4 linked regions of the Homo sapiens genome follow. The protein of the gene in region 1 interacts with the protein of each later gene in a biochemical or structural test. Each region holds a gene or a part of one and is shown in the gene's direction. Other genes may lie near its edges.

Region 1 (7,024 bases):
AGACAAGTCCTTGGGCCTAAGGACTTTATAACCTGGTATTTCACTCAACTACATGATAGCATAAATAATGTTTGCTTCTGTTTAAGTATTCCTTAAACATTATAGATCTCCCAAAGAAAATTAAATACAAACCTCTTTTTAAAGTGAATTTGACAAAGCAAAATAAATTGGAATATATAGATAAATATGCTAAAATTTGTCATATGTACTTTGCGTACTTTACATGTGTTATTTCATTCTCAGGGCAATCTAAGACAGTCACTTTTATTATCTCATTTTATAGAGAAGAAAGCTGTGCAGTAAAGAAATCAAATACCTTTCCCAAGGTTACAGAGCTAGTAGTAGAGCCTGGATTTGAATCTGGGTTCTGACTGATTTTTAACTGCCATGACAAGGATCAAAGCTCAAAGTGTGATCTCTGTGTTAGAAACATCGGGGTTGCTCTTTAAAAAAGCCGATTCTCAGGCCTCAACCCAGACCTACTGACCCAGACACTGCAAGTAGAATCCATCAAAATGCAGTAGTTACTTTGAGAATCATGAAACTCTGCTACACAGTCTGTCTTCCTATTCATGGAAGTCCTCTCCTAGTATATAAATGTGAAGTAATATTTCTATTTCAAACCTGTATTGATAACTGTCTGGAAGATAATTTTCCTGGGAATATATTATTGATGAGACTGCAAAACAGATGTGAGGTATTGGATTGATCTTTCCATTGTAGCTAGGGAAATACTGATGTTCATTGTTTCAGTGAAGTTCAATGATTTCCTATCCGAATTAACTCCCTTAATTTAACAATTTTTTTTTTTTTTTTGAGAGTGAATGCCCCTCTGGGCTTCTAGGCCACATGGTTGCTAGAGAAATTAGGTACTGTGTTGCACTTGAAAACACTAAAATCTTTCTGACTACTTTCACTGAGCAAAGAGACATAAAATGCTTTAAATTTGCAACATTTCAGAAAATAAATTTTAGTGATTATTTATGACTCGAATCTTTCAGATTTTGACAGTGAAAGTGGAAGGTTGTCCAAAACACCCTAAGGGCATTATTTCGCGTAGAGATGTGGAAAAATTTCTTTCAAAAAAAAGGAAATTTCCAAAGAACTACATGTCACAGTATTTTAAGCTCCTAGAAAAATTCCAGATTGCTTTGCCAATAGGAGAAGAATATTTGCTGGTTCCAAGCAGGTAAAGAAAACCTTAAAAAATTAATTGCTACATGGAAATTCACTATCTATTCTTTTAATTGTCAAACTAACTGTAGTCTATAATAGATGTATTAAATAAATAAATATATTTTGCTTCTAGTGTAAACCTCCTACTGACATGTATCATTTATTTTGGAATAAAACATTGCATCTGACACTTTAACAATATAGTAAATCACTTACTTTATGTGTATAGTTACTAGTTGGCTTATCACTGTTGAAATTATTTAAGAAAGGTAAATAGTGGAGATTAATGTGTGTGTGTGTCTGTGTTTGTGTATGTGTGTGTTCTTAAACAACACTGAGAGAGTTTATTAAGCAAGTTCTGAGAAGATAGTGAGTTTTCAACAGAATTTTAAAAGCATTTATGGCATCACAATGGATGCCTATGTTTTAGCCTATACTATGGAAATTTTTCCTACTGCTCTAAGCAACTGGGAAATTTATAAAGTAATATGATGTTGAAATGTGCAAATTACATTGATTGATGGATGCAGCCAATTTTAAAAATAAATATACACTTTTTTTCTAGGACATGTATTTTTCAGGATTTATATAAGATTACATTTGTCTATGCATAACTAATTGTAATAATTTATGTATTAGTGCACAGGGATTACCGAAAATATTTCATGCATCTACATCTGAGCATGCATTTGAATTGGTTATTGACCACTGAATTTTTGGTGTAGGAAAAATATGTAGTGAAACAATGTTACAAAAAGATTACAATTGTTTGGAATGATTACCTTCATTGACTTTAAGCAGTAAAATCATTTGCTCAACAAGGTTGGGTGTTTTGTGAGGCTGTATAACCATAGTGTCCTTTTGCCTTTAGTTTGTCTGACCACAGGCCTGTGATAGAGCTTCCCCATTGTGAGAACTCTGAAATTATCATCCGACTATATGAAATGCCTTATTTTCCAATGGGATTTTGGTCAAGATTAATCAATCGATTACTTGAGATTTCACCTTACATGCTTTCAGGGAGAGGTAAGTATCTAATGAAGACTTATTAGATTTTTAGAGACTATTAATTTAGACTTATTAATTTTTAGAGAAATTAGGGAGATGGCATATGAAAAGTAATATGCCATTTTCTCAGAGTTTACTTGTTTGGAAGGCAGCTGAAGAATTAGAAAATAAGCTCATAAAACCTTGGAGTAGGCAATCTAAAGACACACAAGCACATATAACCTCATCTAATTTGTCAGGAAGAAAATTCCTTAGGTGCTCACTCAGATCTTGACTGTGATTACATTGTAGGGACTGTAATTATCTCTTTTCTGTTGCACAGCCACTAAGACATTTACAAAAAAAGAGCAAATCCGGTGTTTATAATGCTAACTCTTTCTTCTAAAATAAATAGAGACATTTTGGTACTCCAAAGGGAAAATATCATTTTGGGGATTAAAATTAGCTTTACACAGGTGTTACTGGTTTCCAAAATAAACCTTACCTTGATTGGAATTAATCAACATATAGGTAGTTACATTGCATTAAAAAGTTCAGAAAGTTTTGCGTTTAGCATGATCAAAAACTTCTTTTTAAAAATTATGAGGATTTATTTATGATTTTCTTTCTTCATCTGTCGAGCATATTAAACTGCTTAACAGCATCAACCTGAAATGGATCTTAATGTGCAGGGGATTTAACTCTTTTTATTGTAAAGTTGTGGATAAAATATTTAATAGATATGGATGAGGACTCATATCAGTAACAACCCAATACTTTATTTCAAAATGAATAGATCTGTATTACAATCACTTGTGTTGTGTGCAGTAGATTTTTTCCCTTTAACTTAGGAAGCAGTTAATAATTAATGGCTCCATTTTTTAGAACGAGCACTTCGCCCAAACAGAATGTATTGGCGACAAGGCATTTACTTAAATTGGTCTCCTGAAGCTTATTGTCTGGTAGGATCTGAAGTCTTAGACAATCATCCAGAGAGTTTCTTAAAAATTACAGTTCCTTCTTGTAGAAAAGGTAAGGAAATCAATTTGAATGTTTTCAATTGCAACACTAAAGAAATTTAAACTTAAAAAAAAAAAAAACTTTACCTTAAAGCTTTGCGACAGTATGAGGTTTAGACAAGGTGTTGAGCTCTGTTTTGAATCATGTAGGCTGTATTCTTTTGGGCCAAGTTGTGGACCACATTGATTCTCTCATGGAAGAATGGTTTCCTGGGTTGCTGGAGATTGATATTTGTGGTGAAGGAGAAACTCTGTTGAAGAAATGGGCATTATATAGTTTTAATGATGGTGAAGAACATCAAAAAATCTTACTTGATGACTTGATGAAGAAAGCAGAGGAAGGTATGTTTTGATACAACTTACAAATGCTTTTAAGTGATCCTTCAATACTTATGAAGTGACTTTTAATAAATGTAAATATTCTTATCCATAAGGGATGAGTTGAAAAATAGTATATTCAATTATAGGGACAGTTCAGAAAACTGAATTATATTTATTACCAATAAAATCTTGTATTCTAGATTCAGAAAATGTTGATTTGAGGGTTTGAATGCTGGCTTATTGAGCAACATAACCTCATCTGTGAAACCGGAATACCAACCACATCTATCTCATAGAACTGTTATAAAGATTCAAATAGACAATACATGGACCTAATTTACCAACATGTCTGCCATATAATAACAGCTGCAGCTTCATGAATGTGGCAAAAGCAGAGAGTAGATAACTTTCTAGTCAGATGTCTGGTAGTCTGCAGCAGTTCAGAATTCTACAAGTGAACGTAGGAATAAGTTTTTAAAATTCCAAGTAGATAGATACTAAGTGAATCTTTAAAATGTTCTCAAATTTCCTAGAGAAATATAGGATTGGTTAGAAAGGGAGGGATTAGAAATTATAGAAAATATTCCATTATTTTTTCACATCAAAACCACAAATTTATGTATCTCCTTAAATGTTGTTTTTATTTAAAAAATGTTTTATTACTTCTCAGGAGATCTCTTAGTAAATCCAGATCAACCAAGGCTCACCATTCCAATATCTCAGATTGCCCCTGACTTGATTTTGGCTGACCTGCCTAGAAATATTATGTTGAATAATGATGAGTTGGAATTTGAACAAGCTCCAGAGTTTCTCCTAGGTAATTCTTTTTGTTAATTTGAGAATAAAAATTAGGATGTAATTTTCTCCTTATAATTTAGAAAATAGATTTCATAATTATATTGTCATAGATTTTACTGTCTTCATATATTTGTTATAATTTTTGTATTTGGAATGATATATTTTAAAGGAATATAATATTACAGATCTGGAATTTGTTTTGCACATAATCATGTAGACTAGGATCAAGATGAGGATGAGATTATCATGGAAGCAGAAATATTTATGAAATATATCTTTGTATTTGCCTTAATTGCCAGGGATATGGGAGGCAAATAAGACAGTTTTCAGGTGAGTTAAGTGAAGCAGCCATATTTTATAAAATGACAGAATAGGTAAAGGAAGCACACCTCAGTGTAGCCATAGCAGGGGTTTTATGACTCAGTGTGACAATGCTGAATTCTCATAGAAATATTCATTAAAAGCCTTGAAATTAAAGTCAAAAGTGTTACATGGTGACATACTCAAATACTTTTTTTTTTTTTTTTGATATGCTGAACAATTTACATTTCTTGGTTCCGTGAATTCAATCAGTGATTTTCAGTAGAGTATGATGGAAATCATTGAATTCATGTAGCATGTTTAGGTGCTCATTGAGAAAAGGTGAAGTCATGGTAACCATGTTTCAATATTCTCATTTGTATCTTGACTTCCTGCACATGGATTTTTGGGCCTAAAAGATGTTTTTAAAACATGCTCATACACTTCAGAAGATGAAAAGTGTATGCATTATAACTACTTTGGGAAAGAAACAGTCAACATATGTTACTGTATGTCATTCTGTAGATTACATGTGTGGTTTCTCATGTCTCTCAGAATAAAAGCTAATGTCTTTACAAGACCTGCGATGCTGTGATCTGTCTGGCTCCTCGGTTATCATTTTTAAAAAAAGATATACTTTGTACAAATTTTTTTAATTGACAAGTAAAAATTGTATATATTTATGGTGTACAACATGATGTTTTGATATATGTATATGTTGTGGAATGGAGAAGTTTAGCTATTTAACATATACATTATCTCAAATATTTATGTGGTGAGAACTATTAAAATCTACTCTCATAGCAATTTACAAGTATACAGTATGTTATTATTAACTGTAGGCTGACATACTCAAGTTTTAAACATTCCTGAGAGTCATTGGGACAACTATGAAATGCATTAGATTGATTTAATATAAAGCATTTGAAGACAATTTTGACCTTACTTTGTTTAGTTTTTGTTGTTGTTGTGTGTATACATTTAATTTTAATCAAATTACCCCAGAAATAATGCCTAAGATCTGTCAGTCAGGACATAATATTATTAGCAAAAAGTTGTCCAAAATTTGAGACATGATATTTAAAGCTAAATAAACTCCTTTATACCCCTCTTATTGGCATTGATTGGGAAGTTTAGGTTGAATTTAAATGCTTTGGAACTCAGGAAGTTAATGTATTAGTAATAGTGGGTTAACATAAAATGCTGAATTGTCCTTGCTGAATCCTACATCTTAACCCCAGACTTCAAGGTATACAGGAAAGTACCAGACATGGTGCATCCTTCCTCTGAAGAAATCCCAAACTGTCAGACACAGATCCCTAAAATATTTCTTTTTCCTGCATTAAAATGTGTTTCAGATGAATGGACACGTTTTGAGTAGTGTATGTGGAAACGTCATTTACAAAGTCTGTTTAGTTGGCCAGGTGTAGTAGCTCACTCCTGTAATCCCAGCACTTTGGGAGGCCGAGGTGGGTGTATCACGAGGTCAGGAGTTGAAGACCAGCCTGACCAAGATGGTGAAACCTCATCTCTACTAAAAATACAAAAAAATTAACTGGGTGTGGTGGTGGGCATCTGTAATCTCAGCTACTCGGGAGGCTGAGGCAGAGAATTGCTTGAACCTGGGAGGCGGAGGTTGCAGTGAGCCGAGGTTGTGCCACTGCACTCCAGCCTAGGCGACAGAGCGTCTCAAAACAAAACAAAACAAAAAACAAAAAAGCAAAGTCTGTTTAGCTACCCATATAGGAAAATGTTTGTGATTACTCTCCCTTCTCTAGACCCATGTCCCATAAATCCATAAATCCCATGTTCATTTACAGAAAGCAGTCTAGATAGGAGTTTCTCAGTCTTTGAGCTGTTGCCATTTTGGCTTGGATAACTAACTCTTTCTTATCGAGGGTCATCCTGTGCACTGCAGAATGTTTGGCAGCATCTCTGTCTATCCACTAGATGTCAGTAGTATCTCCCCTTCCCTCAGATGTGACAATCAAAAATGTCTCCGGATGTTGCCAAAGATAAGGGGTGGGGTTGAATACCAGTGATTTAAACAAATTAGGTGTATCCTTCTAAAAACATTTTACAGGTAGCGACTCCAGCATCTTTATATTAGAGTAATCTGGAGAAGGTTATGCCTCTCTCAATTTTCCCTCTTTCCATTTTTATTTGTAGGGCAGCAATGCATTCAGGCTTTTGGTAACTCTTTTTCCCAAGATAGCAGTAACTATTATGCAGTGAGTAATACGACCCACCTTAATAGATATGAATAGACTTGTTTTGTGAATATATTTTAAAATATAAATGTATGGGATTCTGTTCATGCGTCTGAGAAGCCACAGGGTACATTTCCTCTTTGTGGAGCTATTTATTTTTCTGGAGAGCCAAGACAGGTATTTCCACTTCAGTGGTGTGATTTGAGGGGTTAG
Region 2 (7,024 bases), on another chromosome or scaffold:
CCTGGATGGGTGCCTGGAGAGCATGTTTTCTGAGTTAAGTCCACACTCAGGCCAGCAGGCAGCTTCCTTAGAGCCCCGAGCCTTTCTACAGGTTGACTGTGTGATGCAGTGAGCCCTGCCCCACTTCCCTCCCTGTCCCTGCCTGGTGACGTCTCATGGAACCTCTGTTCCCAGGACCTGGTATCACAGCCTCAGTCATGGCCATGCGCCCTCCACCCCCCTCACAGCCCTCCCAGAGGCTCCCTGAGGCCGTAAGATCATACTGCCCACTTATGCAGAGTTTCTCAAAGTATGTTCCATGGGCCTCCTAGGACCCAGGGACCTTGTTCAAATGCAGTCTCTGCTCTAGGCTCCCACCGAATCAGGCTCTGAGGCGGGAAGTCTGCGGTTTCTCTAGCTCCCCAGATCTCTGCACACGTCCCTGCATTGTAGTGGAGACAGGCTCAGAGAGGATGACTTGCCTAAGGCTCATCACAGGGCAGAGCAGCCCAGGGCTGGGCCCCAGGTCCTGACAGCCCAGTCCAGGGGTCCCACTGCTCCACTACACAGTGGATGGTGACAGTGTCACAGTGTCACAGTGGATGGTGACAGTCAGGTGCTGGCGAGGACATGGGAGAATGTTTACTGTCCAAATGTACTCATCAGGGATGGAGTGAGTCCAGGCAGTCCTGGGAGGATTGCTAGCTTCTTTCCTGTGAAGGTCAAGCACACACTCGGGTGGGCAGGCAGGTGTGGGGGTGGCAGAAGTCTGCCCCAGCATGGCTGTCGGCCAGCAGGAGTGCCTATTCCACCCTAAGCAGGCCAGGGACTTGGCTGGAGAGTAGAAGCCCTGAAGCTGCGGGGGGTCGGGGAAGGAAGGGAGTGAGGGTTGCCAAAGACACTGAAAAGACTCTGGTGGGGCCCAAGGCCCAGATTTGGGGTTTGGGGTCCCTGAGCAAGCATCCCAGCCCAAACTTACTGCTTGAGATTTCCTGTAAGTTGTTTCAGCTATGGGATCAGGACCAGGACCCACTGGGCACCTAAGACAATGGCTTACATGATGGGTTTGGAGAAGTTCCTAGAAGGCTTTTTCTGCATCCCCTGAAGCATCCCTCTCCAGGTGCCCTTTAAAAACACGTAATCCCTGGGAGGGGTCATGGTGCATATCACCGCTCCTTGGGGAGAACCCAAAGATGGGCGGGCACCTTTCCTGTCAGAAAGAGCAGAAGGGCTTGGGCTCGGAAAAGCAAGAAGCCTCGCAGGCTTCCAGGGCTGGGCCTGAGCAGGGCTCACTGGGGGCCCAGGCTGCCCCTCAGCTCCACCTTCCCTTCCTCCCTCCCTGCCAGAGCCAATGAGGATAGGCCCCCTACCTTCTCCTCCCTCCCGGGGGCTCCTTAGCCAGGAGTTTCATGCCAGGGAGGAAGTGGAAGGACTCCTTTAGGGGGTCCTTAAGACATCTCCCCATCCCTGGCCTCAAGGCTTGGGTTTGGCTGGACCTACCCTCCTAACTCCAGATCTCTCTGGCACCAGATTCCCAGCCCAGGGGAGACACCTGAGAACCCCCCAGATGGTGACACACCTCTGTGGTCCTCTGTCAGGGACATAACCTCCCAGCACAGATTTGCAAACTCCCTGCTGCAGGCACAGGCAGGGCTATCGGGCCCCAGGTGTGGCTCCCCTGCCTTGGTTCAGGGAGTGGAGACACAGTTGCCCACTGCTCCCCACCCCACTGCCAGGCCTCTTCTGCCCCCATGGGTCCTGGGGTGGGGGAGCCTTGGGAGTGAAGAATGCCTCTGACCCAGATTCTTCAAGCAGCCTCTGAGCTCAGAGGAAGAGTCTGCCTCACGGCAGCCTCCCTGGGGTCTAGCTGTCAATCGCCCAGGAAGAAATACCCAGCGCAGGACCCGGCGGGGAGCTGGCCTTCTCTGTCTTCCCAGGTGCAGCAGAGCGAGTGTAAGGAGCTGTCTTGGGCCTGCCCAGCCTGGTGCCCTGCGGGGGACTGCTGGCACAGGACTGTGACTGGGCTTCAGCTCTGTCTGAAAATCTTTGCTCAGAGCACCTCCCTAGTTTGATCTGATACCCCGCCTGACCCTGCCAGAGTCCAGAGGTCACGGCGGCCAGCCCCTGCCTCCGGGAAGGTTATTCCAAATGCTCCCACAGCCCTGACCCTTCCTGTTGCTTTGTCCCTGCAGCCCAACTCCTCTTTCCGACCGCCGCAGAAAGACAACCCCCCAAGCCTGGTGGCCAAGGCCCAGTCCTTGCCCTCGGACCAGCCGGTGGGGACCTTCAGCCCTCTGACCACTTCGGATACCAGCAGCCCCCAGAAGTCCCTCCGCACAGCCCCGGCCACAGGCCAGCTTCCAGGCCGGTCTTCCCCAGCGGGATCCCCCCGCACCTGGCACGCCCAGATCAGCACCAGCAACCTGTACCTGCCCCAGGACCCCACGGTTGCCAAGGGTGCCCTGGCTGGTGAGGACACAGGTGTTGTGACACATGAGCAGTTCAAGGCTGCGCTCAGGATGGTGGTGGACCAGGGTGACCCCCGGCTGCTGCTGGACAGCTACGTGAAGATTGGCGAGGGCTCCACCGGCATCGTCTGCTTGGCCCGGGAGAAGCACTCGGGCCGCCAGGTGGCCGTCAAGATGATGGACCTCAGGAAGCAGCAGCGCAGGGAGCTGCTCTTCAACGAGGTGGGAGGACAGGGTGGGACACAGACGGGGGCGTTGGGGATGGGCAGTGAGCAGCCAGCCAGGCTGGACATCTGTGAGCAGGGGCAGTGGGTGGCCATGCGTCTGGGCACTGTGCCTGGCACTCAGGCCCCCGCCTGCCCCCAGGTGGTGATCATGCGGGACTACCAGCACTTCAACGTGGTGGAGATGTACAAGAGCTACCTGGTGGGCGAGGAGCTGTGGGTGCTCATGGAGTTCCTGCAGGGAGGAGCCCTCACAGACATCGTCTCCCAAGTCAGGTGGGCAGCTGGGAGGGCTGGACCCTGAGTGCAGGCTGCCCTCACCATGGCCCTGCCAGGGCAATGTGGTCTTCTGCCTGTGGCCCAGAAGACTTGGGATGCCTGGGCTCCCCTGCCTGCTGGGGTAACTGAGACCCAGGGGTCTTGGGAGTGGAGAAGAGAAGGATAGCTTCTAGCCAAAGCTCAGGCCCCAGTTTTCACCAGGGCTATGGCCTGACTGTGCTGCCAAACAGATTGCCTGGGAGCTGTGGGGCCTAGCACCAGGGACTCCTACTCTGCTCAGCCACCCCACGACCTGCCAGAGCTAACGTTCTCTTTCATCGGGTGGCCCCACCTTCCTGTCCAGGCTGAATGAGGAGCAGATTGCCACTGTGTGTGAGGCTGTGCTGCAGGCCCTGGCCTACCTGCATGCTCAGGGTGTCATCCACCGGGACATCAAGAGTGACTCCATCCTGCTGACCCTCGATGGCAGGGTAGGTCCCATCCTGTCCCTGGCACAGCCACGCTCCCACTTCCTCCTGATCCACCACTCACTCCCTTTTCAACCGCAGGTGAAGCTCTCGGACTTCGGATTCTGTGCTCAGATCAGCAAAGACGTCCCTAAGAGGAAGTCCCTGGTGGGAACCCCCTACTGGATGGCTCCTGAAGTGATCTCCAGGTCTTTGTATGCCACTGAGGTAACCGTTCCCTCCACCCCCCAGACCTCCCAAAAGCAACTTGGCAACTGGCAGCTCTTCTGCTGTGGCCCCTCCAGTGAGCTCACCAAAAGCAGCCCTGGTTTTCAGAGTCCCACCTAGTCAACACCCTTCCCCCTTTCGATGGGGCTGCTCTTACCCAGTGACTTTGCTGCCAGGAACGAGTCCTGCAAGTGCTTTCCTCAGCTCAAGGGCAGAATGGGGTATGGCCGGGCCTCCTATGTATGATGGCCTTTCTCTGAGTGACTGACAGCTGTGTCCCTATAGGCAGTGGTCACTCATGCAGGCAGTAACTGGCCACAGGGCAGGTGACCAGGGGAGGAAGGAGACAGACCCACCAAGGAGAGCTGGGGCCAGCTGTCCCCCCTCCACCACTGCTGCCACCAGAACGCAGCTACCAATGGGCCAGGGTCTGGCCATGGGGTCAGGGACATTTTCCTCCTGCAGGTGGATATCTGGTCTCTGGGCATCATGGTGATTGAGATGGTAGATGGGGAGCCACCGTACTTCAGTGACTCCCCAGTGCAAGCCATGAAGAGGCTCCGGGACAGCCCCCCACCCAAGCTGAAAAACTCTCACAAGGTCAGTTGGCACACAAGGGTGCGACCTCGCAGACCCCATTCCTCCTGAGGCAAGGGGACCAGAACCTGGGCTCCCAGCATCTCCCTTCCACTGAAGCCACAGGGTCTGGGCTCCTGGAAAAGGCTCCTCTTTCCCCACACAAAACCCGCACCTGGGTGTGGAGCCGCATCTACGCACAAGTTCGCATGTGCGCTCCGACAAGTCGCCTCCCACGGCTGTGGCAGGAGAGTTGCTGCTTGGCAGAAGGGTTGCTGCTTGGCAGGCACTGGTCGGAAGCCCAGTGGGGCCCATGAGCAGGGAAAGCCAGGACACCAGCAATCCCTGCTGTCCAGGGAGGGATCCGGAGAAGCTTCACTGAGCACAAACCCTTCTAACCCGTGTCGGGAGATCCATACCATGATTCGATGTCCCTGTCCATCACGGCGAGTCGGCTCATGCTCCATCGTTGCACACCCCGACACAGCTAAGCCACAGCGTTCCCCTTAAAGCCAGTATAAGTGCATGGAAGTGTATACATGTAACCCTTTTTGCCAAATCGGCCCCAACCCCGCAGGCCTTACTGTGGACGCCCCCTGCTGGCAGGTCAGCACGGGGCTGCTAAGTGGCACCGCCATCTGGTGGCCAAAACAAGAAATGTCTCAGAGGGCTGAAGCCTCTCCTCTAAAATAGCAAAAAAACAAGAGTTCTGTGGCCCCAACACAAAGCTGGATGGGAGGACCAACAGGAAACATCTTCCAAGACAACTGGTCCTTGGAGCCCGCACCGCTAACCCCAAAATTAGCATATAAAGATCTCCAGTTGGCTAATTCCTCAGAGGATGTAGCCTTCTGCCCAAGACTCAGCCTCATCCCAAGATACTGGCTCAAAATGAACCAAGATAAGCCCTTGCTTTAGACTCTTAAGGCCTAGAGCAACAAAGAAATCTTCCTTTTCAGGTCTCACTTTATTTTCTATTTTTCAGAGTACTTCCTCATCCTTGACTTGTTTGTTTCTGTTGTTGTTGGTTTTTTTTTTTTTTTTTTTTTTGGAGATGGAGTCTCTCTCTGTTGCTCAGGCTGGAATGCAGTGGTGCGATCTCAGCTCACTGCAACCTCCGCCTCCTGGGTTCAAGCAATTCTCCTGCCTCAGCCTCCTGAGTAGCTGGGATTACAGGCACGTGCCACCATGCTCAACTAATTTTTGTATTTTTAGTAGAGACAGGGTTTCGCCATGTTGGTCAGGCTGGTCTACGAACTCCTGACCTCGTAATCTGCCCAACTTGGCCTCCCAAAGTGCTGGGATTACAGGCTTGAGCCACTGCGCCCAGCGACCTGTTTTTAAAATCTCAAAAGCCCTATGTGGCAGACAGGGCAAGCATACTTTATCACTAGCCCATTTTACAGATGAGAAAACTGAGGCCTAGAGAAAACTGTGACTTGCCTGAGATCACGGATAGAGCCAGATCTGGATCACTGATGCCAATCCTCTGCCCCTTCCACAGAGCTATAGCATCTGAATGCTGAGAGCCTTGAGGGGGTGGGGAGGGACAAGGGAACAGGAAGTTAAAAAACCAGCGAATTCATGACTTTCAAACAATGATAAGTCCAGGCAATCAGGTCACCCCGAAGTGACTGCAAATTGTGGCTTCATCTTACTGCCCTGCCTCTACAGGTCTCCCCAGTGCTGCGAGACTTCCTGGAGCGGATGCTGGTGCGGGACCCCCAAGAGAGAGCCACAGCCCAGGAGCTCCTAGACCACCCCTTCCTGCTGCAGACAGGGCTACCTGAGTGCCTGGTGCCCCTGATCCAGCTCTACCGAAAGCAGACCTCCACCTGCTGAGCCCACCCCAAGTATGCCTGCCACCTACGCCCACAGGCAGGGCACACTGGGCAGCCAGCCTGCCGGCAGGACTTGCCTGCCTCCTCCTCTCAGTATTCTCTCCAAAGATTGAAATGTGAAGCCCCAGCCCCACCCTCTGCCCTTCAGCCTACTGGGCCAGGCCGGACCTGCCCCCTCAGTGTCTCTCCCTCCCGAGTCCCCAGATGGAGACCCCTTTCTACAGGATGACCCCTTGATATTTGCACAGGGATATTTCTAAGAAACGCAGAGGCCAGCGTTCCTGGCCTCTGCAGCCAACACAGTAGAAAAGGCTGCTGTGGTTTTTTAAAGGCAGTTGTCCACTAGTGTCCTAGGCCACTGCAGAGGGCAGACTGCTGGTCTCCACAGATACCTGCTGTTCTCAGCTCCAGCTTCAAACCTCGAGTCTCGAGAGGGCCACGGGGTGGTTTTTATGACCGGAATCCCGCTTCCTCCCTCACGTCTGATGTCCTGAAGGTGCAGTCCCACCTGTACAGCCCCTCCCCGCCCAGAACTGTGAATGGCCTGCTCCAGGCCATGGCTGGGGGCAGGGAGTGAGGGGACAATTTCTGAGTGAAAGAGAAAGAATGGGGTCGGTGGTGAAGGTGCTCTCACTTTACAGAATGGAGAGAACATCGTGTGTGTGTGTGTGTGTGTGTGTGTGTGTGTGTGTGTGTAAGGGGAGGAAAGCCACCTTGACAGCCCAGGTCCCTCCAGGTCACCCACAGCCAGTTTCAGGAAGGCTGCCCCTCTCTCCCACTAAGTTCTGGCCTGAAGGGACCTGCTTTCTTGGCCTGGCTTCCACCTCTCCACTCCTGTGTCTACCTGGCCAGTGGAGTGGTCCATGCTAAGTCTAACACTCCTGGGAGCTCAGGAGGCTTCTGAGCTTCTCCTGTACTGTGCATCGTGAGGGCCAGAGACAGGAATGTAAGGATTGGCAACTGTGTTACCTTTCAAGTTTATC
Region 3 (6,859 bases), on another chromosome or scaffold:
TGCGGGGCTTGGAGGAGCTGCACCTGGAGGGGCTTTTCCCCCAGGAGCTAGCTCGGGCAGCCACCCTGGAGAGCCTCCGGGAGCTGAAGCAGCTCAAGGTGTTGTCCCTCCGGAGCAACGCCGGGAAGGTGCCAGCCAGTGTGACCGACGTTGCTGGCCACCTGCAGAGGCTCAGCCTGCACAACGATGGGGCCCGTCTGGTTGCCCTGAACAGCCTCAAGAAGCTGGCGGCATTGCGGGAGCTGGAGCTGGTGGCCTGCGGGCTGGAGCGCATCCCCCATGCAGTGTTCAGCCTGGGTGCGCTGCAGGAACTTGACCTCAAGGACAACCACCTGCGCTCCATCGAGGAAATCCTCAGCTTCCAGCACTGCCGGAAGCTGGTCACGCTCAGGCTGTGGCACAACCAGATCGCCTACGTCCCTGAGCACGTGCGGAAGCTCAGGAGCCTGGAGCAGCTCTACCTCAGCTACAACAAGCTGGAGACCCTGCCCTCCCAGCTCGGCCTGTGCTCAGGCCTCCGTCTGCTGGATGTGTCCCACAATGGGCTACACTCCCTGCCACCCGAGGTGGGCCTCCTGCAGAACCTACAGCACCTGGCCCTCTCCTACAATGCCCTGGAGGCCCTGCCCGAAGAGCTCTTCTTCTGCCGCAAGCTGCGGACGTTGCTTCTGGGCGACAACCAGCTGAGCCAGCTCTCGCCCCACGTGGGTGCCCTCAGAGCCCTCAGCCGCCTGGAGCTCAAAGGCAACCGCTTAGAGGCGCTGCCAGAAGAACTTGGCAACTGTGGGGGGCTCAAGAAGGCGGGGCTCCTGGTGGAAGACACGCTTTACCAGGGTCTGCCGGCAGAAGTGCGGGACAAGATGGAGGAGGAATGAAGCTGGGGTGGGGCCGTTTTAGGTAGAGCCTTAAAAATGCTTCTGCCCTGGAATCTCAACCATTGTCTTCCAAGATAGGAAGCCAAGTGGGTCCAGGCCAGGAGATGGGGGGGGCGGGGGCAGCTGTGTCATCTTTCTGGGGCCCAGGAGGATCTGGGCTGGTTTGTCTGGGGAGACAGACAGGATGTTGTGGAGCTGGGGTGGAACCTGGTATGGAGGGATTAACTCAGTCATGGCATTCTCCGACCAAAACCACACCTGTGTCTCTGGCAGGCTGGCTGGCCTTGCTCCCATCCCTAGAACTGCTGCCTCTCCCTGGATATTCCAGCTCAATTAGTGCCACATATGGGGGAAACGACACATCCCAGTGGGATTTCCAACACTCCCCCTCCCCATGCAACAAAGCAACTTACTTCTGGAGTTCTCTCCCAAGGAGAGGACACAGACACAGTTGTTTGCTGTGTTATATGTTAGCTCCGAACAATGGTTCTCATTTGGCTAAGCATCAAAATCACCTAGGGAGTCGGTGCAAAACAAAATATCCCAGTCCCCTCCCCTGAAACACTGACTCAGGAGGTTTGGTTGGGGGCCAGGAGTCTGTTCCTAAATATTCCAGGTAGTTCTGGTGCAGGTAAGTGGCCCTGAGACAGTATGTTGGGAAATGCTGACGTAAAGGTATCAGGGCCGGGCGCTGTGGCTCATGACTATAATCCCAGCTGTTTGAGAGGCCAATGCAGGAGGATGGTTGAGCTCAGGAGTTCGAGATCAGCCTGGGTAACATAGCGAGACCCCACCTCTGCCAAAAAAAAAAAAAATAGGGTATCCAAATATCTAGATTCTGATCCCTTTTGAGGTCCTAGACCCTTTGAGAAACTGATGAAGCCAGGCACCTCCTTCCTCAGGAAAATGCTGGTGTACAAATACACACAAAGCTCTTCAGGCAGCTGATAGATTTCCCCCAGAGAGCTATTCAAGGACTTCCTAAGGTGGGTGGACTGCAGGGTTAGGACACCTGCTATAGAGGTGACATTTTTCCAAGGACAAGCAGGGACTTTGGTCTTGACTGTTCTCTGGGTGCTTAATAAATAATACTAATTATGCAAGTTCTAGTTTTGATCTCTTATGTGCACTCCTGTCATTGTCTAACACCGTCCATTAGGGCCAGACATAGTGGCTCATGCTTGTAATCCCAGCGCTTTGGGAGGCTCAGGTGGGAGGATCGCTTGAGCTCAAGAGCTTGAGACCAAACTGGGCAACATAGTGAGATCTCATCTCTACAAAAACATACAAAAAAAAGTTGGCCAGGTGTGCTGATGTGTGCCTGAGGTCCCAGCTACTAGGCAAGCAGAGGCAGGAGGATTGCTTGAGCCCAGGACCCAGGAGGTTGAGGCTGCAGTGAGCTGTGATCACACCACTCCACTCCAGCCTGAGCAACAGAACAAGACCCTGTTTTTCTTTCTTTTTTTTTTTTTTGAGACGGAGTCTGGCTCTGTCACCCAGGCTGGAGTGCAGTGGCGCAATCTTGGCTCACTGCAACCTCCGCCTCCTGGGTTCAAGCAATTCTCTGCCTCAGCCTCCCAAGTAGCTGGAATTACAGGCGCCTGCCACCATGCCCGGCTAATTTTCGTATTTCTAGTAGACACGGGGTTTCACCATCTTGGCCAGGCTGGTCCTCTCCTGACTTCGTGATCCATCCGCCTCGGCCTCCCAAAGTGCTGGGATTACAGGCGTGAACCACCATGCCCGTAACCTTTTATTTCATGTGACCAAGTAACACCCGTGTGCCAGAATCAAGGATGAGTCTCATGTTCTCAGAGCAGAGGCACAGAAGGCTGCCTGGAAGACGGAAAGGTAAAGACCTCAGCTATAACTCTACACTTGTGTGTGCTCCACCCACAAATCGTCACCAGAGGAGTTCCGACAAGCCGGTAACTCTCATCCCAAAGTGTTCCCTCGTTGGACCAGAAGCTGGAAGGGCACTTGGCAGAGTCTGCCTGGCCCTGGCCACCTCCCGGGTGTCCGCAAAATCAGAACTTCCTTCTCGCATCTAAGAGCAGAGGGAAGCCGCTCTTGGGGGGATCCCTGGGTTCCAGATGGGACATTTCCCCAGCACCCGTCGGACCACTTAAAGGAGTGGTTTAGGCTGCCGGGGGCCCAAGCACTGGCACCTAACCCCAGCGCCCCTCCTCAGATAGGAATTCTCCACGTCCAGGCGCTGGGCTCACGTTCCGGGTGCGAGAGAGATAAGGGGGGTGTCTTGAGGTTCTATGTGGGTCTGGCCAACAACTCTGGCCTTGACCTTGGCCCCGTCGCCGAGGGCAGGGGTCACACCGCTGGGTTCCCATGGCCGTCCCCTCCCCCCTGGCTTCGGCCAACTCTGAGCCTGCTGGGGCTGGCAAGAAGGGAAAGGGCTCTCGACGGAGCCTAATTACGGTGAGGAGGCGGCACCCCGCTGCCAGCAGGAGGCTAGGAGGTAATTAAGCACAAGAGGAATCCTAATAAAGCACCATCAGTGAGGAAGGCATTCCGAAGGGACGCCCAAGCCGACCGTGAAAAGCGAGGAGGCTGAGGCTGCACCGCCGTGGAGACCAGGGATCGACTGCCGCTTTGGGAACGAGGTTCCAGGAATGCGCATGCGCAAAAGCCACGCGGGCGAACACGGCTTCGCCTCGCTAAGCATGCGCGCCGTTTTCCCCGCCCACCGTCCTCAGAAGAATGGTGTTTCCTCGCAGCGCCTCTCTCAGGAGCGATCGGGAATTGGCGCATGCGCACTACGGTGGTGGTGGCGACGAAGGCGGGGGTTGCACGTTGCCTGCCTCGAGCTCTAGGTGGCGTCATCCTTCGGGCTGAGCCGAAGCACGCACGCGCGGAGGTTCGCACGCGGAGAAGGGCGGGTGCGCGCCGCGGGCATGCGCGGTGCGGGGCGAGACGGCGGCTCGACGGGGTCATCCGGGCGCAGGCGCAGTGCGGTGTTTGTCTGCCGGACTGACGGGCGGCCGGGCGGTGCGCGGCGGCGGTGGCGGCGGGGAAGATGGCGGCGTCCTCCCTGGAACAGAAGCTGTCCCGCCTGGAAGCAAAGCTGAAGCAGGAGAACCGGGAGGCCCGGCGGAGGATCGACCTCAACCTGGATATCAGCCCCCAGCGGCCCAGGCCCAGTAAGCACGGCGGCGTGGGGGAGGGGGCGGGCGGGCGGGGCGGGGCGCGCGCCGCGGGAGGCCCCGCCCCCACCACAAGGCCCCGCCCCCGCTTCCGGGGCGCTCGCTCTCCTCTCCGCCCCCCCCGCTGCGGGCTCGCGGGGCGAGGGTCACGGTGACCCGGGGGGCGTGGAGCCGGCGAGCTCCGGGGGGTTCGCACCCTCAGGGCTTGGGAGCCCAGTTCCCGGACCCAGGCGAGGCCCCCAGCTGATGACCCGCCCCCATCGCCGTGATCCTCTGGGTCGGGCTTCCCCGACTCCACGCGACAGTGACCACATCCAGGTCGCCCCGAAAACACAGACACGTCCCTGTTGACCTGATGCTACCACTCTCGTCATCTCAGGGACTGTCTGGCGCCCCCCTCCCCCGGCCTGGGGGCTTGTCAGCCCCGTGCAGCGACGATCTACGCACACGCGCACGCCTGGCTCGGGGACACCTGAGGTTACTTGACCACATAGAGCCCCTCCCCATCTCTTCTGACCCGAGGATTCTCCCTCTCGCTCTCCCTGTGACCGTGTCTGAGGTGGGGGGACGGGAGGGGGTCCCTTCTCCCCCTCTTGGCGACAGTGACCATGGCATTGGGCTCAGCAGACCCCCTCCCACATACACCAGGCCCCGCAAATCCCTGTGACCAGTTTCACTGCCACCATCTTGGTGAGCGTGTGGTGTCTGACCTCCAGAAATGCACATCGACCCCCAGCCAGCCCGGTGACTTTGTCACCTGTGTTCAAGTGATGGCTCCCCTTCCCTTCACACCCACACCCACCTGACCTGGGGACACCTGGGGCCAGTGTGACTCTAGGCCTGCTCCCGCCGCGCCCCAGCATACATCCACCTGCTTTCTGATCAGTCCCACCACCTCGGTACCTACCTCCCTGACACCTTGTCATCCTAGATCAGTACCTCTCGCTTCACACACACCTGGCCTGGGAACACTGACCATATCTAGTCTCCCGGCTTTTTCCCCAAGATCCTGGTCTCTAAATCCTCTGGGCTGGAGGAAATTAGATTTTCAAACCCTGTGAACACCACCCCTGACCCATGATCCTTTTTGTGTCTTTCTTGACCCAGTAAAATTCTCTCTTGTCTCCTCTGATGTGACCTTCGTAGTTTATTTAGTTCTCTCTATGGAGTCATTATGGCAGGCGAGAAAGGTACCCCCGTATCTGGGCACCCCACCCATTCCCTGGTCACCCAGCCTGACCTTCACAGCCTGACACCCTCCTGTCCCTCCCTCTCCTGACCTGAGTCAGCGTGGGTTCCTCCTTGGGGAGTCTCTTGGGGGTCCAGAGAAATCATGGAGGTGGGGATTCTGGTGCAGGACACTGCCTGAGACAAGAAGCCCAGCCAAGACACGGGTCCCTGCTAGCCCCTGGGGGCCGCCCTCCCTGGCCCCTGAGTGGATGAGACAGGGTTGAGTCCAGGATCCCGGGTGCCTTCAGGGGTGGCCGTTCCCATGCAGAGCTAGGAGGCCGGTGGCAGGCAGGCCCCCGAGGAGTCCCCTCCAGGCGTCTCTGTCTGTGTCAACTCCATCCCATCCTCCCCGCCCTCCCCATCTCTGTCGGTTCCTAGCCATCTCTGCAGTTCGGTGCCTCCCCCTCCTCCTCGTTTATGATTTGATTTCTTTTCTTTTGGACGAATCAGTCGTTTCTGTTGTGATTTATCGTGGTGTTGTTTTTTTCTTCCTTTTCCCCATCCAGTTATTGTGATCACTCTAAGCCCTGCTCCTGCCCCGTCCCAACGAGCAGGTACCAGCCTTTTTATCATCGCTGCTTGGACATCTGCACCATTGACCTAACCGCTGCCCCGGCCGCAGAATGGCGTCCCCCAGCCCCCATGCTCTGTGTGTGTCCCCATGTCCCTTCCCCTCACTCTCACTTTCTCTCTCACTCCACTCAAGCAGCGGTCAGCCCAGCCCAGCCTCCTCTGCGTCCTCCCTCCTCCTCCCCCTCCCTTACTCCCAGCTCCACTTTGGACTCCCTGGAGGAGGAGGTGGGCTCCCCCACTGAATGGGAGTCTGTGGCCTCCGGGGGTGGGGGGGGTGCACGCCTGTGTGTGTGTAACTGAGAGAACGAGAAAGTTGGGCCTGGTGGGTGGGTGGCCTGTGCCTATGGATCTCTCTCAACAACTAGGTGAACACATAGCACCCCCCGGGTTCCATACCAGCCCTGGGCGCCAGGGACACAGCAGTGAATAGAACAGATGGAGCCCCTCTCCTCTGTAGCGGGGGGCTGCAATAGGGGGGCCCACTGGACAAGGAGCACATTCCCACCAGAGAGAACATTCTAGCTGGGTGAGCGGCCCTGCAGGGGGCCAGCCTGGGGGAACCTCTGGAGACGGTGGGAATTGAACAAAGCCTCTGGGGAGGCCAGGCACGGTGGCTCACACCTGTGATCCCAACACTCGGGGAGGTTGAGGCTACAGGGAGCCATGATCACACCACTGCACCCCAGCCTGGGTGACAGCGAGATCCTGTCTCAAAAATTTAAAAACTGGGCCAGGCGCAGTGGCTCATGCCTGTAATTTCAGTACTTTGGGAGGCCAAGGAGGGTGGATCACTTGAGGTCAGGAGTTCGAGACCAGCCTGGCCAACATGGTGAAACCCTGTCTGCATTAAAAATACTAGAGATTAGGCCAGGCACAGTGACTCACACCTGTAATTCCAGCACTTTGGGAGACCGAGGCGGGTGGCTCACCTGAGGTCGGGAGTTCGAGACCACCCTGACCAACATAGAGAAACCCCGTCTCCACTAAAAATACAAAATTAGCCGGGCATGGTGGCACATACCT
Region 4 (7,024 bases), on another chromosome or scaffold:
TTGCTGTATTTAGACTGCACAGAACTGGTTGGATATTAGAGACCCTGCTCATGACTACCTCACACATACACACACCCTATGTCCCTTCCCCATCTCCCTGTCTCCCTTCCAGTTGTCCATCCATCATGATTGTTGGGGCCACCATGGCTAGTGGCCTTCTGATATGGCTGGTGGAACTTGGACAAGTGTGTGCTAAGTGTATATTTCAGTTATCAAATATTGCATAGCAAACCACCCTAGAACCTAGTGACCCAAACCAACAGCGGTTTCTTATTTCTCATGTTTCCACCACTGTGGCTGGGCTCAGCTGGATGGCTCTTCTGCTGTACCTGGGATTGGCTGGGGTCATGGCTGGGCTGGGCTGGTCTGGAAGGCCCAAGACGGCCTCACAAACATGGGCCTCCTCTGCCTGGCCTCTCCATGCAACTTACTCACATTGGCCTGCTCCCTGGGCTTCAGAGCATGGCAGTGTCAGCAGAGTTGGAGTTCTTTCATGATGGCTGGCATCTAAAAGGAAGTTCTCTGAAGTGCTAGGCCTGGAACTGGCACAGCATCACTTCTGCCTCATTGTGTTGGTCAGCGAGTCACAGGCCAGCCCAGGTTCAAGGGCAGGGAATGCTCCCGGCTTAATGGAGGATCAGCAGGTGCACACAGCGGGAGGCGGAGGTGGTCACTTTAGGCACAGGTTAGGTTTTTCTTTCACAAGTTACAAACGTAGTGGAAACCTAACATAAAAATAGAGGCACAGTAAGGGGAAAATGACTGTAGTTATTCTACCTAGAGACACCTCTTACCCCGTTTCAGTGCCAACATTGTGCATTATATTATATATATAATATTTTTATTACATATAATAAAATACGTTTTATTAAAATTTAGAGAAATACAAACAATATGTAATGCTTCTCTTTTTTTGTTGTTGAAACAGAGCCTCGCTCTGTCACCCATGCTGGAGCGCGGTGGTGCGATCTCGGCTTACTGCAACCTCCGCCTCCCAGGTTCAAGTGATTCTCCTGCCTCAGGCTCCCGAGTAGCTGGGACTACAGGCGTGCGCCACCATGCCTGGCTAATTTTTGTATTTTTAGTAGAGATGGGGTTTCACCATATTGGCTAGGCAGGTCTCAAACTCGTGATCCACCCACCTTGGCCTTCCAAAGTGCTGGGATTACAGGTGTGAGCCACTGCGCCTGGCCTCGTAATGCTTCTTTTTAAAAAACTTTTTAAAAAAAATTTTGTAGCATTACATGTTGTTCATATTTGTCTCTCTCTCTCTGTTTTTTTTGTTTTTTGTTTTTTTTGTTGTTTTTTTTTTTAGATGTAGTTTTGCTCTTGGTGCCCAGGCTGCAGTGCAGTGGTGCAATCTCGGCTCACCACAACCTCTGCCTCCTAGGTTCAAGTGATTCTCCTGCCTCACTCAATCTCCCAAGTAGCTGGGATTACAGGTGTGCACCACCACATCCAGCTAATTTTGTGTTTTTAGTAGAGATGGGGTTTCTCCATGTTGGTCAGACTGGTCTCGAACCCCCGACCTCAAGTGATCTGCCTGCCTCGGCCTCCCAAAGTGCTTGGATTATAGGTGTGAGCCACCGCACCTGGCCAATTTCTCTAAATTATAATAGACTCCTGTATGTATCCCTTCCAAAGACTCCATAACCATCTGCCACCATTCAGTCACCCTGTCTGCTGATGTGGGTTGTTTCCCTTGTTCCTGCTGTTTTCCTTCCATTTCAAATTCTCAGCCATCCTGGGGGAGCGACTGATGAAACAGAGTCGGGAGAGTCCCCCTGGGTGGGGCTCTGGCCTCGGCCTCCCCCCATCCTGCAAGGGCCCCAGAGCTCTCTTGGCGTTGGCTTTTTCCCACTCACTGCACAAGCCTCAGGATGCCAGTGGGAATCACCCAGAACAGACAGGGGTCATGCCGGGGATGGCCCTTGGCCAGGAGCAAGTGCTGACTGGGTGCTGGCCTGTTAGTGTTGTCGCTGGGGAGTCACAGGGGTGCGACTACGGTCCTGGCTGGGTCTCCGCCCCCATGGTGGGGCCGGCCCCTGGCGCTGGACATTCAGGCTGTTTCTTAGTATTTCCTGGCAGAAAACACCATATGGCACATCTTCGTGTCTGGAGGCTATTTTTGTTGTTTTTCATTTTTTGAGCTCTTTAGAAAAAATAAAGGAGTACGAGGTTGAAGGTTTGGACACTTCTGCTTTTCTAATTATAACTCTCATGGCCGCTGGTCCTTCTCCTGTAGCTCGTATGGGGTACTTGCTCTACATATTGCAGTCAGTGAAAATTCTAAGAGAAAAGCCCCCCAAATCGGTACGGTTTTGTCCTGTGAACACGCATGCACACATGCACACACACGCAGTGGGCCCTGCCTGTGTGGGTGTGTTTGTCTGAGCTGGAAAGGGCCTCTAGCCTGATGGGAGGCACAGTCTCAGCACAGTCCTTAGGGTCTTGTCCGGGCTCCAGTTGCCAGTGCCAAGTGTTTGTGCTGAGGTCTCTTCCGTTCATCATGGTGATGACGGCCGGCAGTGAGGGCCCTTGTGCTGGAGCCTCGGAATTCTCTGTTCTTCCAGGCCGGGGCCAGGGCTGACATAACTTGTTTTTTCCATCCAGTCATCATGATTGGAGCCCAGAGTTGGTTGTAAGCTAGCTAGTCCGTCCCTTCCATGATGACTTCCTGCCAACCACAGGGCTGGGAGCTTGGAGCGAGGACAGAGACCCACCGGCCCGATGTCACCCACAGGAAATCTGGATCCAGCAGGGCACATGTGGCCACACAGGCCACTTGTCTAGGAGGGAAACTGCTGGGGCCCTGCAGAAGATGAGGCTGCAGGCTCACGGGTGCAGAGGCGAAGCAGCCTCATGGTCTCACACTCTGTCCGCGGCCTTGGAGACAGCTGTGTGTGTGTGTGTGTGTGTGTGTGTGTGTGTGTGTGTGTGTGTAGCATTTCCCATGTGCCTCCTCTGTGAAAACAGCCCAAATTAATGACAGCAGATGCTGAAGTCTGAGATGGTCAGATGTTAGGAAGGGGATTGGCTGTGACCACCTGGGACCTGCCCACCTGGCTCATGAGGCTACGGCCCAAAGTTGCCAGCTCCTCAGATTTTTCCAGAGCAGCTGGAACCTGCATTGTTTTGTAAAATCTTCAGAATTCAGGTTTTCTGAAAACCCTATGATGGTCCCACCAGTCCCGGTGTGGGCTGAATCTGCTTCCTGAGCTGGGTCCTGCTGGCTGGGTCGGAGGAGCTAAGAGCTGGCATCCCCGGCTTTCTCGCCTTTGTTCTGCTGGGATGTGGTAGGGAGATCAGCTGTGCAGCTTTGACGCCTGGCTCTGGTACCAGGATGGGTGGGAGCCCCCAACCCTCGCTCCTGGGTGCAGAGCGTGGTTGTATCTGGGGCCGGGGCCTCTGACCCCCTGTCCCCGCTGCAGATTGAGATGGCCATCCTGCGGTTCCCTTACGAGTCCTGGGGGACCCCGTTCCAGCAGCTGAAGCAGGTGGTGGAGGAGCCGTCCCCCCAGCTCCCAGCCGACCGTTTCTCCCCCGAGTTTGTGGACTTCACTGCTCAGTGGTGAGTCTTGGGTGCTGCTGAGCGCCTGCCACTGCCCCTCCCTGGCCAGATCCCTGCACCTTCCTGGGCCCTGTTCCTTTATTCCTTTGGCAAATAAACCCCCAGATGACTTGGCATCCAAATATGTAAGGCAGAAACAGCTGGAGCATGAGGAGCATTTGACAAAACGATGGTCTTGGTGGGAGATTTTAATACAGTTCTTCCAGAAGTGGACAAATCAGATAGACTGAAAAAGAGAACAAAGTATATGGAAAATTTGAACACAAAAAACAAGTTTGCTTTTATTGATATCTAGAACTTTGTACCAAATTAAAGAATGCCCCATAGGAGCCTTATAAAAATCATGTTTGAGAGGCTGGGCACGGTGGCTCACGCCTGTAATCCCAGCACTTTGGGAGGCCGAGGCAGGCGGATCCCGAGGTCAGGAGTTTGAGACCAGCCTGACCAACATGGTGAAACCCCGACTCTACTAAAAATAGGAAAATTAGCCGGGCGTGGTGGCGCATGCCTATAATCCCAGCTACTCAGGAGGCTGAAGCAGGAGAGTCGCTTGAACCCGGGAGCCGGAGGTTGCAGTGAGCCTGAGCCGAGATCATGCCACTGCACTCCAGCATGGGTGACAGAGTGAGACTGTCTCAAAAAAAAAAAAAAATCATGTTTGAGGTTACAGAAGGAATAAGGAAGAGGGCAACTTCTCTGAACTTAATTAAATAGAGCAAGAATTGGGTAAGGAAGAAGCGGCCGGGTGCGGTGGCTCACACCCATGGTCCCCGCACTTTTATTGTTGACCATAATCAGCAACAGAGGAGCCCAGCAGAGTCCCTGGGCAGTCTGACCCCTTTAATTGTGGACTAACTTCTCCCAGAACCCATGATAAGGAGTTTCTCTCCTGATTGAGGATACCAAGTGTGTGACTGTTAGGCAGAGCATTGCAGCCCCATTTTGGTGTTGATATGGAAATTCCTAGGTCACTATGCAGACAAGAAAACCAGGACCCCAGGAGCCAGAGAAACTTGCTGCAAGTCTCTAGTTTGCTCCTATGAATGCCCCTCCACCCTGGAAGAAGCCCTAGACAGTCCTGTCCCTTCTTCCCTGGGTGCACGTGTCCCCTGCTGCTAGGCCTGGGGCAATCCTGGGGTGGTTTGGCTGGCCCTTGGGGGCTGGGCTTCCTCCCTGCCAGCCTGGCCACAGCTGCACTATTCTCTCCTAGCCTGAGGAAGAACCCCGCAGAGCGTATGAGCTACCTGGAGCTGATGGTGAGTATGGGCGGGAGGTGCCTGCCCTGCTCTTCAGGGCTGGCTGGGGCTGGGTGGGGCTCTGGGGAGAGGGCTGCATCCTGCACACAGATGGGTAGCTCCTCTGGCTGGCCCTGTGTTCTCTCCTTTAGGTGCTCGGTCATTTGTTTGCTCCTGCATACCTGGCTCCCTCCTCCCTCCTTCCTGCATGCCAGGCCCTGGGAAGGGTACACAGGCAGTGTGTGACAGAATGGGGCAGAGGGGCCAAGGGTGGCATCAGGGAAGGCTTCATGGAGGAGGTACCATTTGAACTGAGCCTGGAAGGATGAATAAGGGTTATCTCCTGATGGAGAGGCTGTCCCAAGCAGAAGGTCCAGCATGGGCAGAGGCCTGACGTGTGGGGGGAAAGGGAGGTTAGTGTGGCTGGAGAGTGACCACAAGAGAGCTGAGGAGGAGCCACAGATGCCATCTGTGACAGTCATGGAGGGCCTCCTGGGGGTGGAGGTCCTAGAAGGATGAGTAGGATTTTGCCAGTCAGGAGAACACTTGGGCTGGAGCTGGTTGGGGAAGAGTGGCCACCTCTCCCTCCCGCTACCCCTCCATGGTGACTGTGCCTTCTGTCACCCCCAGGAGCACCCCTTCTTCACCTTGCACAAAACCAAGAAGACGGACATTGCTGCCTTCGTGAAGGAGATCCTGGGAGAAGACTCATAGGGGCTGGGCCTCGGACCCCACTCCGGCCCTCCAGAGCCCCACAGCCCCATCTGCGGGGGCAGTGCTCACCCACACCATAAGCTACTGCCATCCTGGCCCAGGGCATCTGGGAGGAACCGAGGGGGCTGCTCCCACCTGGCTCTGTGGCGAGCCATTTGTCCCAAGTGCCAAAGAAGCAGACCATTGGGGCTCCCAGCCAGGCCCTTGTCGGCCCCACCAGTGCCTCTCCCTGCTGCTCCTAGGACCCGTCTCCAGCTGCTGAGATCCTGGACTGAGGGGGCCTGGATGCCCCCTGTGGATGCTGCTGCCCCTGCACAGCAGGCTGCCAGTGCCTGGGTGGATGGGCCACCGCCTTGCCCAGCCTGGATGCCATCCAAGTTGTATATTTTTTTAATCTCTCGACTGAATGGACTTTGCACACTTTGGCCCAGGGTGGCCACACCTCTATCCCGGCTTTGGTGCGGGGTACACAAGAGGGGATGAGTTGTGTGAATACCCCAAGACTCCCATGAGGGAGATGCCATGAGCCGCCCAAGGCCTTCCCCTGGCACTGGCAAACAGGGCCTCTGCGGAGCACACTGGCTCACCCAGTCCTGCCCGCCACCGTTATCGGTGTCATTCACCTTTCGTGTTTTTTTTAATTTATCCTCTGTTGATTTTTTCTTTTGCTTTATGGGTTTGGCTTGTTTTTCTTGCATGGTTTGGAGCTGATCGCTTCTCCCCCACCCCCTAGGGTACCAGCAGGCAGAGCCTTGCCCTCTGCTCAGGCTGGGGTCCAGTGGGAGGGGCCCAAGATCTCTGCTCAGAGAAGTGCAGGGGGAGCCTTCCAGCTCACTCTCCCTGAGGACTGGCTTGACAGGGGCTATGGGTTTGCTTTGGTGTTGTTTTTAAAAAAAGAAAATATATTTTTTTGAAAAAACGACTGCCCATCCCGGGTCCTTTCCCTGATGGGTTGGGGCAGTTACCTGGTTGCTGTTTTAATTAAAAAAAAAAAAAAAAAAAGGACTAAAGGTTGTGTGAGATTGTGTATGACACCTGTGAGCCCCCCTCTTACTTGGGGAAGGTTGTGGCCCTTCAAGGGACCCTTGTCTCTGGGCCAGGGGCAGGGTGTCGTGCTCAGGGGAGGGAGGACTGCCAACCTACCAGGCCCTTCTACATCTGAGGACACAGAGGCCCCCAGAGGGCTGTGATGAGGTAACATCCTGTGATCATCCAGGCACCAGGCCCTGTACTGACACTGGACAGAGCAGCGAACACACAGGTCCAGTCTGCTGGTGGCGGCCACCCATCCCACTGTCCTGAAGTAGTGATGACAGCCAGGTCACAGAGCAGCGAGCACCCTGCACACTTTGCCTGGGCTGGACACGGTGACCTCATGGAGGTTACCTGACCTCCAGTTTACAGATGGGAACAACAGACCCAGAGAGCTGACATCACTTACCCAAAGCCACACAGCTTATAAGACAGAAAAACAGACTTGGGGACAGGTGGTGGGCTCCGGAGA

What was found.
Region 2: the proteins of LRRK2 (region 1) and PAK6 form a complex in vitro, tested with the Homo sapiens proteins (2 studies listed by BioGRID).
Region 3: of the proteins of LRRK2 (region 1) and MAP2K7, one has a biochemical effect on the other in vitro, tested with the Homo sapiens proteins (2 studies listed by BioGRID).
Region 4: of the proteins of LRRK2 (region 1) and MAP2K3, one has a biochemical effect on the other in vitro, tested with the Homo sapiens proteins (2 studies listed by BioGRID).

What each region holds. Positions count from the first base shown.
Region 1 is NC_000012.12:40,318,987-40,326,010, forward strand, and holds part of LRRK2 (leucine-rich repeat serine/threonine-protein kinase 2), read left to right. Parts: exon of another isoform or gene 1-989; intron 990-1,001; coding exon 1,002-1,189; intron 1,190-2,047; coding exon 2,048-2,202; intron 2,203-3,048; coding exon 3,049-3,195; intron 3,196-3,332; coding exon 3,333-3,524; intron 3,525-4,173; coding exon 4,174-4,320; intron 4,321-7,024. UniProt on the Homo sapiens protein: Serine/threonine-protein kinase which phosphorylates a broad range of proteins involved in multiple processes such as neuronal plasticity, innate immunity, autophagy, and vesicle trafficking.
Region 2 is NC_000015.10:40,270,053-40,277,076, forward strand, and holds part of PAK6 (serine/threonine-protein kinase PAK 6), read left to right. Parts: intron 1-2,171; coding exon 2,172-2,669; intron 2,670-2,813; coding exon 2,814-2,947; intron 2,948-3,293; coding exon 3,294-3,420; intron 3,421-3,498; coding exon 3,499-3,624; intron 3,625-4,089; coding exon 4,090-4,224; intron 4,225-5,874; coding exon 5,875-6,042; 3' UTR 6,043-7,024. Other genes in the region: BUB1B-PAK6 (serine/threonine-protein kinase PAK 6), read left to right, coding at 2,172-2,669, 2,814-2,947, 3,294-3,420, 3,499-3,624, 4,090-4,224, 5,875-6,042. UniProt on the Homo sapiens protein: Serine/threonine protein kinase that plays a role in the regulation of gene transcription. The kinase activity is induced by various effectors including AR or MAP2K6/MAPKK6.
Region 3 is NC_000019.10:7,900,039-7,906,897, forward strand, and holds the start of MAP2K7 (dual specificity mitogen-activated protein kinase kinase 7), read left to right. Parts: upstream 1-3,838; 5' UTR 3,839-3,906; coding exon 3,907-4,030; intron 4,031-5,769; coding exon of another isoform or gene 5,770-5,817; intron 5,818-6,859. Other genes in the region: volume-regulated anion channel subunit LRRC8E, read left to right, coding at 1-875. UniProt on the Homo sapiens protein: Dual specificity protein kinase which acts as an essential component of the MAP kinase signal transduction pathway. Essential component of the stress-activated protein kinase/c-Jun N-terminal kinase (SAP/JNK) signaling pathway.
Region 4 is NC_000017.11:21,308,711-21,315,734, forward strand, and holds the end of MAP2K3 (dual specificity mitogen-activated protein kinase kinase 3), read left to right. Parts: intron 1-3,431; coding exon 3,432-3,571; intron 3,572-4,781; coding exon 4,782-4,827; intron 4,828-5,436; coding exon 5,437-5,520; coding exon of another isoform or gene 5,521-5,600; 3' UTR 5,601-6,522; downstream 6,523-7,024. UniProt on the Homo sapiens protein: Dual specificity kinase. Is activated by cytokines and environmental stress in vivo. Catalyzes the concomitant phosphorylation of a threonine and a tyrosine residue in the MAP kinase p38.